2 linked regions of the Homo sapiens genome follow. The protein of the gene in region 1 interacts with the protein of each later gene in a biochemical or structural test. Each region holds a gene or a part of one and is shown on either strand. Other genes may lie near its edges.

Region 1 (7,564 bases):
GGCAGTGAAGTAATTGTCCAGGTCTATGCTCTTGGGGTGGATACCATAGCCATCCAAGGTATTCCTCAGGTTGTGGAACTGGGTCTGAGTATAGGCAGAACTGGGCCCCAGGATGATCTCCCGGAGTGGGGGAAGCTGTGAGGTCAGGTAAGTATCCACGTCCACCCGTACCCCAATCAAACTCAGCAGAATGGTGAACTGGAGAAGTCCTTCCGTTAAGTATTTCTTCAGAGAAAGCATTGCTGAAGGACCAGAATGTTTATGCTTTTTGGTTTTTAAAATCTTCCAAAAGACAAATCAAGGCCACTGCTCTGCCGCTCCAGCCAGCAGGTTACCCTCCTCAGTGTCAAACCCCGTACCCCACCCTGGCAGAACACAAGGGATGAGCTCCCTGACGGCCCCAGAGGAAAGCACACCCTGTGGAGCCAAGGCCAAGGACACACTCCAGACCACATTCACTTTCCCTTCTCGACACCTCACCTCTGAAAGTACAACTGTTCCTAACCCAGTCCAGGTCCTCAAGGGCCCACGTGACTTACTTTCTCCACAGTCCACATACAGTCACTTCCTCACTCACATTAGTTGTCCTCTCTGTAGATTCCAATGCAGGCTGTTCTCAGGAACAGCTGATGGATTTTTTTTTTCCTTCTCCCTCCTAAGGTTTATTTTCTTTGGCTGGAGCTACAGGCCTTTCGTCTTGGGTCAGAGTGTCCCGCCTCCTCCACACTTACCAGGGGGGTTTCCAGAGAAACCTGAAATGGGAATCACAAAAGCAACAGGATAAGATTCCATACTTTTCACATCATGATCAGGGTAGGAAAACCTTCACAGTAGAAGGTAGAAAACACATTCAAAGGACACTTTCACTTTTTTTTTTTTTGAGACAGAGTCTCACTCTGTCGCCCAGGCTAGAGTGCAGTGGCGTGATCTGTGCTCACTGCAACCTCCACCTTCTGCATTCAAGCGATTCTCCTGCCTCAGCCTCCCAAGTATCTGGGATTACAGGCGCCTGCCACCACGCCCTGCTAATTTTTGTATTTTTAGTAGAGATGGGGTTTCACTATGTTGGCCAGGCTGGTCTCAAGCTCCTGACCTCAGGTGATCTGCCCGCCTCGGCCCCCCAAAGTGCTGGGATCACAGGCGTGAGCCACTGTGCCTGGCCTAAAGGCCACTTTTACAGGAAGAAAGGACTACTTACACTCTCAGAAAAAAAACCCAAAATATAGCAACCGATCATAGAAGAACTATCAAAGAAAGCTACTGATCACGAATGATCTCAGTTACTGAATATTAAATGTGCAATATCCTAAAATGTAGCTTGGTTTGAATAAGCAGACAATAACCAGGTCATCCAAAATATCTTACACCTTTGTTTTATTTACCAGCCCTCCTCCCCCACTACAGGCGCATTACCCAGCTTCTATTTTCACATGAGAAGCCCATTTCCTGTCTTAAAAGTAAAGCTGGATTTTCACCCCTCGGGAGAAAACCACCCATAACAGTTGTCTTTTCTCAGTTCAAAAAGGCAAGATTATTAAACAGTGAGAGTGTGGAAGGACAAAAGGACAATGTTCAGGCCACCACTTCACCCAGAAGAAGAATGCCTTTTGTTTTCTGAACTTTGAAATCTGATTTCCCTTTCCTATCCTCACAACTTACAAAAGAAAAAAAAGGAAAAGGGCCGACGCCTGTAATCCCAGCACTTCGGGAGGCCGAGGAGGGCGGATCACCCGAGGTCGGGAGTTTGAGACCAGCCTGAACAACATGGAGAAACCCCATCTCAACTAAAAATACAAAAATTAGCCGGGCGTGGTGGCGCATGCCTGTAATCCCAGCTACTCGGGAGGCTGAGACAGGAGAATCGCTTGAACCCAGGAAACGGAGGTTGTGGTGGGCCGATATCGCGCCACTGCACTCCAGCCTGGGCAACAAGAGCAAAACTCCGTCTCAAAAAAAGAAAAAAAAGAAAGAAAAGAAAAGGAAAGAAAAAAAGGAGAGGGATGGTGGGGGCCCTACTACGCAGGACTATTCCGTCCAGAATTTGCATAGGCAGGTTTTATTTTCATTCATATGACCTTCTGAGCCAAAGCAGAAGGATATGGCCACGTTCTCTAGCCAGACTGCCCAGTGCAGAGGAAGTAAATCTGTTTCTGGTCTCCACTTTTGAGCTTCCATTAATGTCACAAACCAAGACATACCGCCTCTCCTCTCCTGCGTTGTGACCCATCTACCAACTTCATTCTACAGGGGGAGAGCGAGCTATACGTACACACACGAACGTGCGCACACACACACACTCACACTCCCTCTCTCTGGTCAGAGTAAACACAATTGCGACCCAGAATTCCTGCTTACGCTACCCTCCCGTTCTCACGCAATTTATTACTAAAACCTCCCAGGAGCCAATTAAGTTCGAGGAACCGGACAAAGTCCCTTAAAAATCAAGTAGGTGCAGGGCCCATAGCCTGAGGCTGGTCCCACCCTGCCCGGATACCCGAGTCCGGCTGAGACCAAGTCGCCATGCCCACTCTCGGCGCCGGAGCTTCTAGCCTCCAGGGGCGGCCAGCGAACAAGTGCTACTTCCCTGGCCTTGACCCACCCTTACAGCAAACCCCACCCCGCCCTCCGTCCCGATGGCCCCACCCCACTCCCAAGTCCAGGCCTCACACCACGCCTTCTCGTGCCCTCAACCCTGCCCAGTCCATCCCACCCCGGAGCCAGCTTTCCTCTCGGCCCCGCGCGGGGCCCCTCCCTGTCAGGCCCAGGGCCGGGCTCTGGCGGGAACCCCGCTCGGCCCCCGCCTCCTGCACCTCAGCACCATCCCGTCGCCCCATAAGCCTCGGCCCCGCGGCGCTGCAACCCTCCCTTCTGGGAAAGGAATGTGCCCGATACCCACTGCTTAGCTCGGCGTCCGCCGCTGCCTCCACAGCAGGCCCTAAGCCCGAGTCCCGGCCTCGCCGCCGCCACCGCCGGCCGGCCTAGAGCTCGGAGCCTCCGCTTACCTCCCCGCCCCCTCCTGCTACCGCACTCGGAAACCCGCCCGCCGCAAACACCCTAGGAACAGTTTCTCCAATCAACGAGCCGAGGCCGGGGCCGTCGACGGATGTCCCTCTGATTGGCAGCAGAGAGGGCCCAATGGCTGAGTGTACCTCCTCATCCCCGGACCTGATTTCCCAAGACTGACATAATTCCCGGCCCAATGAGTACCTAGGCCCGCCCCGCGGTATGGACCCACCAATGAGGAGGGCGAAGGCCCTAGTGTCTGGCATTCTGGGCCCCTCGGCCGCGCCTTCGCGGCGGGCGATGTTAGTGGGCTTGGGCGTTGGGTGAAGTATCCAGGTTGGGCGCTTCCAGCGCTTTCTGTGGCGGGGGAATGAAGGCCTAGGTCAGGGAATAGGAAGGTGTATCGCCGCCAGAGTGCGGAACACCCTCGCCTTGAGGGTTCCCACAGTGACTTGCAAAAGTCTAGTGAGACCCGAGAATGCTGAGGCGGGACACGAAGCATGTGGTTCTTGTGGTTGCGACGCTCGTGCCGCCATCTTGGGTGCTGGCGGCGGAAACCGGTACCCCAACTTCCCCTCGGTGCGAACCTGGAGAAGCCACCCCAGCTGTGAGGGACGGTTGCGCCTCATGGCCCAGGCAAGGGTACCTTCGCTGGAGCAGTACCGCGGACGGATATCATGAGGGTGGTGGGACGTTGGCGGAACGTTGGCGGAACGTTGGCGGTGTGAGAGGTGTGGGGTAATGGCGATTTTTGTCATGGTAGAAACAGCCCAAAGGACCCCCCTCGTTTGGCCTCCCACGCAGCTTAGTCTTGCTTTTTTAGGGATGTTTCTCATTTTTTAATTTCTCCAGTCCCATCTGGTTATATTGCCAAAACATGTTTGTGACTCTCAAACGTTAGTTTACTCCCAGCATCACTTGGGGAGCTTGCTAAGCTACGAATTCCGAGGTCCCACTGGAGAGTCTGATTTAATGACCCTGGAGTGGCGGCCGGATAACCTGCCTGCTGGGGTGATTTTAACGCAGCTGATGCGAAGACCCCATTTAGGGAATCATTGGGTTGGCGTTTGCAATGCGTTCCTCCCAGCTATAGGACAAAGAGGTGTCAACTCAACTGTGTCTTCTTAGAAGAGCCCATTATTTATAGGTGAGTCATTAGTCCCTGTACAACTAAGGACAAGGCCAACTGATAACTCAGTAAATAATCGAGTCCATTTTGTGCTTGCGAGTTAGGGGCTTAATTTGGGGTGGTTTGCAGATTAAGTACTTTCACTGCATATAATAAACGTACACCAGCAAACCACTCATGGAATTCTTAAAAAAACTTCTGAGCTAGTTTACCAGTTTCAAAGACTAATTCAGAGAGCATGTTTTACCTATTCTAGGCTGGACTGGAACTCCTGGACTCAAGCGATCTTTCCATTTATCAGGGACTACTGACGCGTGTCTCCCAATAAATACCTGAGTATAAACAACATGAGGACTAGAATTTTGTGCGTTAACTGTTATAACTTAGTAGACACTCAAATACTGAGTACTTGAAGGGGGACTCAAGCAGGCAGGCCTCTGATTTTCCTGTTAAAAGCAGAAATTAACCACACCTTGGAGGATGTACAGTTTTGAAGGATATGGCATGTTAACAATAAAATAGGAGACCATTCAGTCCCCGAAGTAGTGAGACAATGAAGATAAAGACTGGTATTGTATAAGAAAGGAGGAATATTTAGGTGTGGCCATCAACTCTAAAAATAAATAAGGTTGAGAAGGAAGTATTTTAAACATAGAACTGGGCCCGGCGCAGTGGCTCACAGTAGCACCTTGGGAGGCCGAGGCGGGAGGATTGCTTGACCAGCCTGGGCAGCATAGTGAGACCCCCGTCGCTACAAAAAAACAAGCTGGGCTTGGTGCCACACATCTATAGTCCCAACTACTCAGGAGGCTGAGGTGGGAGGATTTCTTGAGCTGGGAGATTGAGGCTGCAGTGAGCTATGATGGTGCCAGTCTGGGCAACAGTGAGATGCTTCCTCAACAAAACAAAACATAAAATTGAGAGATATAAAGGCTCAACTACAGTGTTTAACTACAAGACAATTTTGAGAAGGTGAAAAGAGCATACTAAAGTTGGTCTTTTTTTGACAGAAAAATACAGAACAATTTTCAGTCCTAACAGTTCAAACTAAAACTGGACAATCGTTTATCTGTGGAGTTTCCTGCTTAGCCATTTCACAAAGGTGGGCAGAAAAAGGGAAAGAGTTGCAAGGGCCGAAGAGAGTAAAGGTGTAGAGACAAACTCAGTCGCAACAGCAGGCCTAGGCCTGGCAGGGTGTGGGCGCCCAGGATATTTGATGCTCCATGGAAGGGAGTGGAGACAGAAAGACTGTCTTCCATTCTGTCTAGAGTTCCAGATCAAGTCTGAGCAGGTGCAAGCTTTCCCAGAACCTGCTGATTAACCTTGTAAAACCCAGGGTGTGTCCTTCTTCACCCAGGAAGCCACCCCCTCCTTTCCCCCAACACTCTCCCCCTCCCTTTGCCTGGGACAGCTGTTAATAGGACAGTTACCCAAGAAGCAAAAGAAGGATCCCATGCTGATGTGTCATCAGTCCCGGTATATCCATTAAATCAGACTGAGAAGACCACTGGAAAAAGTGAGCGCATGCATGTGGCTCCCTAAGGGAAAGGCTGGCAGCCATTGTAAAACTAGGCCTTGCCCCTGCGACTCCAGGCTGGGCAGGAGAGAGAAGAAGGCAGTGGAAGCCGAGAAGAGGGTTAGGTCTAAAGCACACGGATTTGGGGCCAGCTAACTATAAAACATACACGGAAATCCCCACCCCCACCCCAGGAATAGCAGTGTAGTGTCTACCGACCCAGCTTCCCTGGTAGGAAAAGCTGCTGCTGCCGCCAACAGCCACATCCATCCTGCAGTCATCCCTGGAGGATGACACATGCCAGGAATCCTCAGAGAAGGGGCTGTGGGAGGGCAGGCTGGCTGGGGCTCTGATTTCTTCTGGAACAGTGAAATTGCTTTTTCCCTAAAAGGGAAACCCAGGCTTTCTGCCATTCTGGTTGTCCATTATCTTTCCTCTAAAAATGTCTCTAAGGCCAGGCACAGTGGCTCACACCTGTAACCCCAGCACTTCGAGAGGCCCAGGTGGGCAGATCACTTGAGCCAGGAGTTTGAGACCAGCCTGGCCAACATAGTGAAAACCCATCTCTACAAAAAAAATACAAAAATTAGCCAGGCGTGGTGGTTCATGCCTGTAGTCCTAGCTAGTGGGGAGGCTGAGGTGGAAAGATCACCCGATCCTGGGGAGGTTGAGGGTGCAGTAAGCTGTGATTGCGCCATTGCACTCCAGTCTGGGCAACAGAGTAAGACCCTGTCTCAAAAAAAATAATAAAAAGAAAAACATGTCTTTAAGTTTTGCTAATCCATATAAGTATTTCTTACTCTGTAACCTCATCTAATCCAGGGGAATAGATTAGATAGATGATTGCCTGAGATTTCCTTACAGTCCTGAGAGATGGTAGGAATACATCATGTCAATACTAAATGTTAGCATGTTTTGCAAAGAAATCAATTAGTTTTCTGGCAAATCCGGACATATGGCCCTCTCTCTTATATGGTAAACATCATCAGCAAGCTTGTTACCATTAAACCACCAAAAAGTAAAGCTCTCCTGCAAGCCAGCCTCTTTCCTATGCACCACTACCACACTCTTAGAAGATTGCTTCTCAATCCTGGCTGCATATTAGAATCACCCAGGTGGGTAGCTCGTAAGAAATACCAATGCCCAGGTCCCACCCCACACCAATTAAAACAGCTGCCCAGAGCAGAATTGGACATCAGTATTTTGTAAAAGCTCTTCAGGTGATTCTTATGCACAGCCAGAGTAGAGAATCACTAGGTTGGAGCAAGAATCCACATTGGGGTAAAAAAAAAAAAAAAAAAAAAAAAGCAAAAGATTGTGGTAATACGGGAACACAGACTAGAATGATTATCTGACTTTTTTTTTTGAGATGGAGTCGCTCTGTGGTCCAGGCTGGAGTGCAGTGACACCATCTCAGCTCACTGCAACCTCTGCCTCCCCAGTTCAAGCGATTCTCCTGCTTCAGCCTCCTGAGTGGCTGGTATTAAAGGTGCACACCACCACGCTTGGCTAATTTTTGTATTTTTAGTAGAGACAGGGTTTTGCCATGTTGGCCAGGCTGGTCTCAAACTCCTGACCTCAAGTGATCTGCCCACCTCAGCCTCCCAAAGTGCTGGGATTACAGGCGTGAGCCACTGCACCCGGCCCGTTTGACTTTTAGGGTGTGCTCATTCTCAACCCTAAAATGTTCTTTCTTCACCTCTACAATGAAAATGCCTCATTGTTCATTAGTGTCTTAGTGTAACATTTTTTGAAGCTGAGTTCAACTGTCCTGTATGTCTTGCTATGTTGTCTCAAACAATACCAGGTAGTGTTCTTCATATAGCTCTGTGTGACATGTCACACTCAAGGAGCTGCCATTAAGAGGTAGGAGGAGTGGATGTTTTGGACTCATAGGTGGGTTCGAAAATCTGGCT
Region 2 (6,986 bases), about 34 Mb from region 1:
GGCCGCCCCACCCGGGACCGCCCGTCGCCCCAGCTGCTCCCGAAACCGGGGGCGCCCGCGCGCCGCACGCGGAACTCGCCTCCTCCTGCCGCCGCTTCAGGCCCTCGCGCCGCCGGCTCCGGCCCTGCAGCTCCGTTACCAGGTCCGCGCTCTCGGCCAGCAGCCGGCCCTCCTCGGCGCTGCGCTCCGCCGCCGCCTTCCTCAGGATGCGCGACACCTGCGGGCAGGCGGACGGTGAGCGGCGGCGCGGGCCGGGCATGGCCGGGCCGGGGAGCGGCGGCGGCGTACCTGGCGGAGGCGCTCCCTCTGCTGCTCCTCCCGCAACCTCCGGACCCGCTCCGCCGCTTTGCGCTCGGAGCGGCTCAGACCCCCGGCTGCCATCGCTCCCCTGGAGACCTGCTCTTCCGCTTCCGCCTCACACGGCAGGCCGCGCTCAGGGCGCATGCGCAAGATGGGCCCCGCCCCCACCCACCCCTTCCGGCTCCGCCCGCCGCGTCGCCCCAAAGAAGCACCTGCCAGTCTCTTTAAAAGGTTTATTGATCATATACAAAATAAAGAAAACCTTATATATCACAAACATACACTATGTACAGCAATAAATACCCGGGGGGCCAGGCCCAGTGCTGCCCCTCCTGGACAATAATTTAGCAATAAATACTGCGCAGGGCAGGGGTAGGGCACCAAGGCCACTGCCCTGCAAGAGGTCAGGCCCCTGCCCGCCCTACACGAAGTGTGAGCGCTCGGGCCTCACCCCGCATCCAAACCCCAGCCCCTCCTCACTTAGATCTTTAATAACCTCCATCCCACCCCAGCAGATCCCGGGGTCTTCTCCCACACACACAACCTCCCCTGGCTAGACCTAGGCAGGGCAGGCAGGGACTGATCAACTCTGCTTGGACCCACCTCTCAGCGCCAGGAGAGCAACAGGGCTGGACACGCGGGCAGCCCTTGTCCTGTTGCCAGGAGAAGGCTTTCTGTGCCCACTCCCGTTTGGTTAAAGGCTTCAGGGACTAGCAGATTGAGGGGGTGGGAAGAAGGGCAGGGCTGGGACACAAGGTTGCTGGAGGGGCCAAAGCCCAACTGGGGTCACCAAGAACAGGGAGGTCTCACAGTTTATCGGGGACACACTCTAGCTCAGACTCAAGGGACACCCATGGTATCAAAGCTGCTGCTCCAGGGGCAGGGTGGAAATGTGTGGGACTGGCCCAGCAGGTATGGTACACACCCAGGACACAGGCCAGAGGCAGGACAGGCATTAGTCTCTCAGACACGCCCTGCCTCTGTGTGGCACTGATTATGTACTCTACTCTCCCGACCTGCTCCAAGGCCAGACAGCCAACAGGAAGGCAAAAATACACCAAAAAGAATTATTCAGTGGCTTCTGGGGGAAAAATCGTTAATGTGTTGGTTCCTTTCACCAAACCACAGCCTAAAAAAGTAACTCACAAGATCCCAGAGCGGAAACGGTGCAGCAGGCTGCGGCTCCGACTTTCCAGATGTGGATGGGCGCTTTGGCCAAGTGGCCACTCCAGAGGGAGGCAGCAGGGACAACATGGGACCTGACCATCGTCCCAAAGCAGGCTGCAGCCGCTCAGGGCCGTGGGCCGGGCCCTGATCACCAGTCAGAAGTGTACACACATATCTGAAACATGCACCAAGAGCTGAGCCAGCAACACCAGTGCCACCCCGAGCAGCAGCCAGGGGCCTCACTCTCCTGGTGAGAGCTGACCTGTCCCTGCTGGGTATTCCTCTGAAATCTGAGCGTCCATGTTAGGATAAAAGAGGAGTTGGGGCAAAGTTAAGGTGGAAGGGAAGACATATATCATGGTTTACTTGGCGGACAAGTTTGAGAGACCTGGCCTTGGCCAAAGCCCTCGATTCGCTGTGTCAGAAAAACTGAGGTGAGAAGAGACCACCACCCTCTCCACCACCCTCTCAGTAGGAAAGCGGGATCAACAGAGATCAGAAGGACAGCACACTCACACCTGCACATGAACACACCATCTATGTCAGGAAATCCAGGGGAAGGGGAAGAGGGGTGGAGTGGCTCCGCAGGGCTGACCTGACAGGGGACAGGAACACTCCCCTAGACCCAGGGAAGTCGCCCCAAATCCAAAGCTCTTGAAAGGAGGTATGGCCTCGAAACTCCAGAAGCCTCTTCTGCCAACGCACCGAGGACCTGCACCTCCCATTCAGCACGCGTCGACCCTTACACCCTCCTCTTCCACACTCCCTTCGCCTCCAGGTCTGCAGCCTGGCAGAGGTGCTCAAAATGGATGGCCACCCACAGCCAGGACAAAAGTGGGGGCTGCACAAGGACAAGGAGGGCCTGTTTCTCCCCACTCCGAGGCAGATCATGACGTTTTCTTCATGGATACTTATGATATGATTCCAACTAACGCCTGGATTCTACTTAGACAAGATCAGACTGAGGGGAGGGGGATGAAGTCACTAAATGACAAGAGTCAACAGCCAATATTTCCATTTTCAGGCTGACGCAGGTAGACACAGGACTTGTCTCTGAACACCTCGAGCAAAGAAAAGCTCATTAACATGACAAGTGTTGATGGTGCCTCCCTGTTCCCATCCTGTGGGCACACCAGGCCAAACTATTGGATAAAAATCCCACCATCCATAGGGTTAAGCCCTGTTGGGCCACAGTTTTTCATCTTACCCACATCTGTGTGCTTTACAGAAGTCTGGGCCCCACAGAAAAGAAACCAGCAACCCGGTGAAAGGCCAGGGCTCACATGGCCAGACACAGGGCTGTAGCCTCTTGGAGGTGGGTAGGGGCACCCCCTCCCCATCATATGCCTACAAGGAGCCTCCTGAGCCCAGCCAGGAAGGGCAGCAGCCTCTGGCGAGGAACTGAGAGCAGGAGGCAGGCTGCGCCCCCACAGGGAGGCACCTCCAGCAGAAGCCAAGCAGCTGATCCCTGGAAGACACAGATCCCAAAGGGAGGCAGAAGGCAGGCCCGAAGCCAAGAGCTGCCAGCGTGGACCAGCGGAGAAGAGGGACAAGACCCGGCCCTGGAGACTGTAGCCCTTGTCTGCACTGGTGGAGACCCCCAAGGCTCTCAGAGTGAGGCAGGGACAAGGAAGAAAGGGCGGTGCCCGGTGGGCCCCCACCCACTCTGCCTGGAAGCACCACCCGCAGCATGGAAACACCTCAGGGATCAAGCGGGCGGCGAGACCTGCAGCCCACGGCGCGGGCAGCCTATAGGAACAAAGCTGAGGCCAGAGGAAGACGGCCAGGGAACGCTTGGCCATAGCCCTGTGGCCACCCACAGTGACTCCCTCATCCCTGTAATGCCACCACCCAAGGCCAGAGGTGGTGGGTGTGGAAGCAGCGTGGGGCGCCCCAAGGGACCCCAGTTTCACCTACCCCGCCACTAGATCAGCCCAAGCCCTAGACACAGATGTAGCCAAGGCTCAGTGGAGGGGGGCATGACAGAACCCCATGTCTCACCTCCTACGGACCAGGAGCTGGTGGTGGGCACAGATTCCTTGAGCTCTGACGCAGCAGGCGCCACTTGGCACCCCAGCCCAGGTCCAGCAAGCCAGCAGAAGCAAAAGCACAACTAAACCCAAAAAACGAACACGGGAAAACAGACACAAGAAGTGACACCCACAGGTCAAAGGTCACCAGAAGCACCAGCACTTTACCGCTGCACAAAACCTCACCAGGCACGGACGACACCACGGCACCGGCAAGAGACGGAAGCAGGAAGGGCAGAGGAGTAAGTCACTTTCGGTACAATTGCAAAAGATATCAAAGAGGACGGCCTTCTGGTCGGCTCACGGCTTGGCTTTTTTTTTTTTGTCTTTTTTTTAAACTAAGTTTTATAAATAATGTCTGATAACTCTGTGTATATAAAAACTAAACTCCAACAGCCACAAAGAGGTGTCCGTAAGTTTACAAGAAAGGGATTTTTTTTCTTTTTTTTTCTTTTTTTTTTAACTAGCAAAGTTTCTATTATACTTTCTTCCCTTTTCCATTCATATGGTCAAATGGTCTTCTTGCTTGTTTTTTTTCTAAAAGACAGTTTTATAAATACTCTGCAGCTCTTTTTTCTTTAACTTTTAAACATATAATTAATTTAATAACTTTGTAAAAGGAACTTCTCTCTTTTAAATAAAGGGCTATATAACCACACAAATAGGTCATGTAAACAGTGACACGGGACCCATCGCAGGGCACACTGGACCCACCCTCACGTTAAGCGCACAACCAGAGATTTGGTCTTGTTCAGTGCAACGGGTCAGGCCTGAGTGCACAGCCCCTGGGCCCAGCTGCACGCCCCCAGCACCACTGCGCCCAGGCTGGTGGTCCACCCATCAGGGCCTTCAAGCCCGCCCTACTCTCAGAGCAGAGCCCATCTCTTCATGCTGGGCTAAGCTGAGCTGCTCCCCTGGGGCTAAAGAGAGTGAATCCTTCCCAGCCCGCGAGCCTGTGGCCACTCGGGAGTGGAGGGAACACTGGGACCCTCACTGCTCGGGGACACGCGAGGCCCAGCGTGCCTGCTCCTTCTCTCTCCCGCAACTCTCTCTAGTCCGTTCCCACAGCACCAACTCTGGACTCCAAGCCTGCATGGCCCTGGTACAAAAGGGGTTGGGGCGACCCCACGTCACCGCCGAACTGACCAATCCCAACATACAAAACACACGACGACAATGACGAGATCAAAGGGGCTCAGCCCGGCGCCCCTGGGGTACAGGTTGTGCTTTGCAGGGAAGAGAGAAGGGTGGGGAAGAGAGGGAGGAAAGAGAAGAGAAGGAAACAGAGGGACAGGGCAGCCAAATTCGCCATGTGCCTAGTGGCCCCGCAAAGACCCGCCTGGGCAGACGCGCGTCCCTACGATCGGGCATCCGTCTTGGACTTTACTATTGTGATGACGCTGGTGGCGGCCACCTTGCCTGGGACGAGGGGCCCCAGGCCGGCGGCAAGGGGGCCCCGGGCTGGCGCCACGGGGCTGCGGGCCACCGTCCGGGCGAAGGTCTGCAGCGCCTCGTACTTGGAGCGCAGCGCGTCGAGCTCCAGCTTCATGCTGGCGTTCTCTGAGGCCAGCTTCTCCACCTCCTGCTGCAGCTCCGCCTTCTGCTTCTCCAGCTCCTCCTTCTGCGTCACCCGCTTCACGCGGCAGCTGGCAGCGTAGCCGCGGTTCTTGAGCGTGCGCCGGCGCTGCTTCAGCTGGACGATCTCCTCCTTGGACAGGCCCCGCAGGTGCTGGTTCAGCTCCCGCACCGACATGGTCACCAGCTCCTCATCCGTCAGGCTGGTGCCATTCTCACCCGGCTCCCGCTTCACCTGGGGCACAGTGCAGGTGGTCACAGGCCAAGCGGGCACGCCCACTGTGCCCCCCGACCCCAGCCCACAGGCTCCTGTCCCTGCCCACTCACCTTCAAGGCCTTGTTTCCTTTATTGGGGGTCGTCATAACCCGGGGGCACAGCGAGCAGGCGCTCTCTGCAAGACACGGAGCAGGTCAGTACCCTGGAGACCACCCTCGCCGCACCCCCCCCCCCCCGCCCCCGGCCCAGTTCACAAGAGCCCTTGCCGCACAGCCCGCCCCAGCCTGCTGTCCAGGTGCCCAGCCCCCAATACCTGATAGGAGGCAGCCCTTGGCCTCTCCCAGGCTGGGCTGAGCTGCTTCCTGTCCACCCTGCCCCTAGAGAACCAGGTGGGAGGTCAGGAAGGTCTGACGGGAGAAGGGGAACTGAAGGCTGTTAGGAAGGCAGGCGCAAGACAAGGGGCAGGGGAGAGATTAGAAGGAATAAGACGCGGGAGAGGCAGGCCTAGAAGGAAGCCGGGAGCTTTAAAAATAACCCCGGCACTGCCCAGAGCGCGGCTGTTCCTGGCGAGTCACGCTGACTCAGCACATTGCCTCTGCCTCCCCGCCGCGCCCGCACTCCCTGGCCCGCCAGCCAACAGCGCCCCACGAGAGCCGCAGCCCCCAGCCTGGCCAATAGCAGGTGAGGGCCAGCCAGTGACCCTGTGTGTGCATCTTCCAGGGTCCTACCTTCTACAGCCACCTCCCCTGAGCCGGCCTCGGACAAAGCCCCCTGCTCCCTGGGTGCACAGGGGCCCCACGGGGGACCTGGCCAGAGAGGAGGCTACAGGGAACCCCGAGTCTCCCAGCCTCCTAACTTTGAAAAGCTGGGGGTGGGCCGTCCATCTAGCTCTGGTCTGTTGGCAGGACTGACCAGGGAGTTCCCCCACCTTCCAGGTGGCAGGCCATCAGCTGGGAGGAGCCTGGCCCGAGGCCCCTCTAGACCTCCCAGTCGGCCTCCTCCACTGATGGAGTAACCATCCTGTGGCTTTGGGTTGCAGGAAGCAGCCCCTGCCCCACCCCATCCAGGGTATTTCACAAGGGCTCCCACAGTGAGCCACCCCGGGCCTGCCCAACGTGAAGGCTGGCGGAGTCAGCCCCTCCGAGCTGCAGCCTGCTCTCTGGTCCCTGCCCCGGGTGAGTGCCCACAGGGCCAGGGAGCAAAAACAAAAGTGCTGGGGTGGCCGGACTTAACAACCAACTCTTCCCCACTCGGGGTCCCTCCAGCACTCTGCTCTCACTTTCTTGCTAAGGATGTTTCTGGGATTCCCAGCTCAGCCCAGCTCCCACCAGACCCTTGGGCATGGACCCCCGCCTCATGCTCCATCCCCCACTTTCCAGGTTTGATGCAGACAGATGGGAGACTCCTCCAGAGGAGCTAGGATCACTTCAGGAAATTATGGGCTGGGGGGCTTCTTACTCTCATCAGGGGAGCTGAAGTGTGGCCAGGCGGATGCACACATCCTCACCAGGCTCAAGACTCCACCTCACCCAGCCTGGGACCAGGAGGTGAGGCTGCAAGCACAGAGCAGGGAGGGGAGGCCAGAGACCCCTCCCCACAGCCAAGCCAGCTCAGAGGCAAGGTCCCGAGGCTCCAGCCACTGGATTCTTCCAGATAAAGGATGGGGAAGACCTGAGCTGGAGGTCAGAAGGCCCACA

Evidence for each region. Proteins that work in one complex are often made in the same cells at the same time.
Region 2: the proteins of NFE2L1 (region 1) and MAFG form a complex in vitro, tested with the Homo sapiens proteins (2 studies listed by BioGRID and IntAct, with this or other methods).

Annotation. Positions count from the first base shown.
Region 1 is NC_000017.11:48,043,795-48,051,358, reverse strand, and holds the start of NFE2L1 (endoplasmic reticulum membrane sensor NFE2L1), read right to left. Parts: upstream 3,001-7,564; 5' UTR 2,897-3,000; intron 2,579-2,896; exon of another isoform or gene 2,495-2,578; intron 753-2,494; 5' UTR 241-752; coding exon 1-240.
Region 2 is NC_000017.11:81,917,751-81,924,736, forward strand, and holds the end of MAFG (transcription factor MafG), read right to left. Parts: exon of another isoform or gene 6,018-6,986; intron 5,717-6,017; exon of another isoform or gene 5,603-5,716; intron 5,483-5,602; exon of another isoform or gene 5,465-5,482; 5' UTR 5,436-5,464; coding exon 5,400-5,435; exon of another isoform or gene 5,308-5,399; coding exon 4,855-5,307; 3' UTR 520-4,854; downstream 1-519. Other genes in the region: SIRT7 (NAD-dependent protein deacetylase sirtuin-7), read right to left, coding at 80-217, 289-381. UniProt on the Homo sapiens protein: Since they lack a putative transactivation domain, the small Mafs behave as transcriptional repressors when they dimerize among themselves.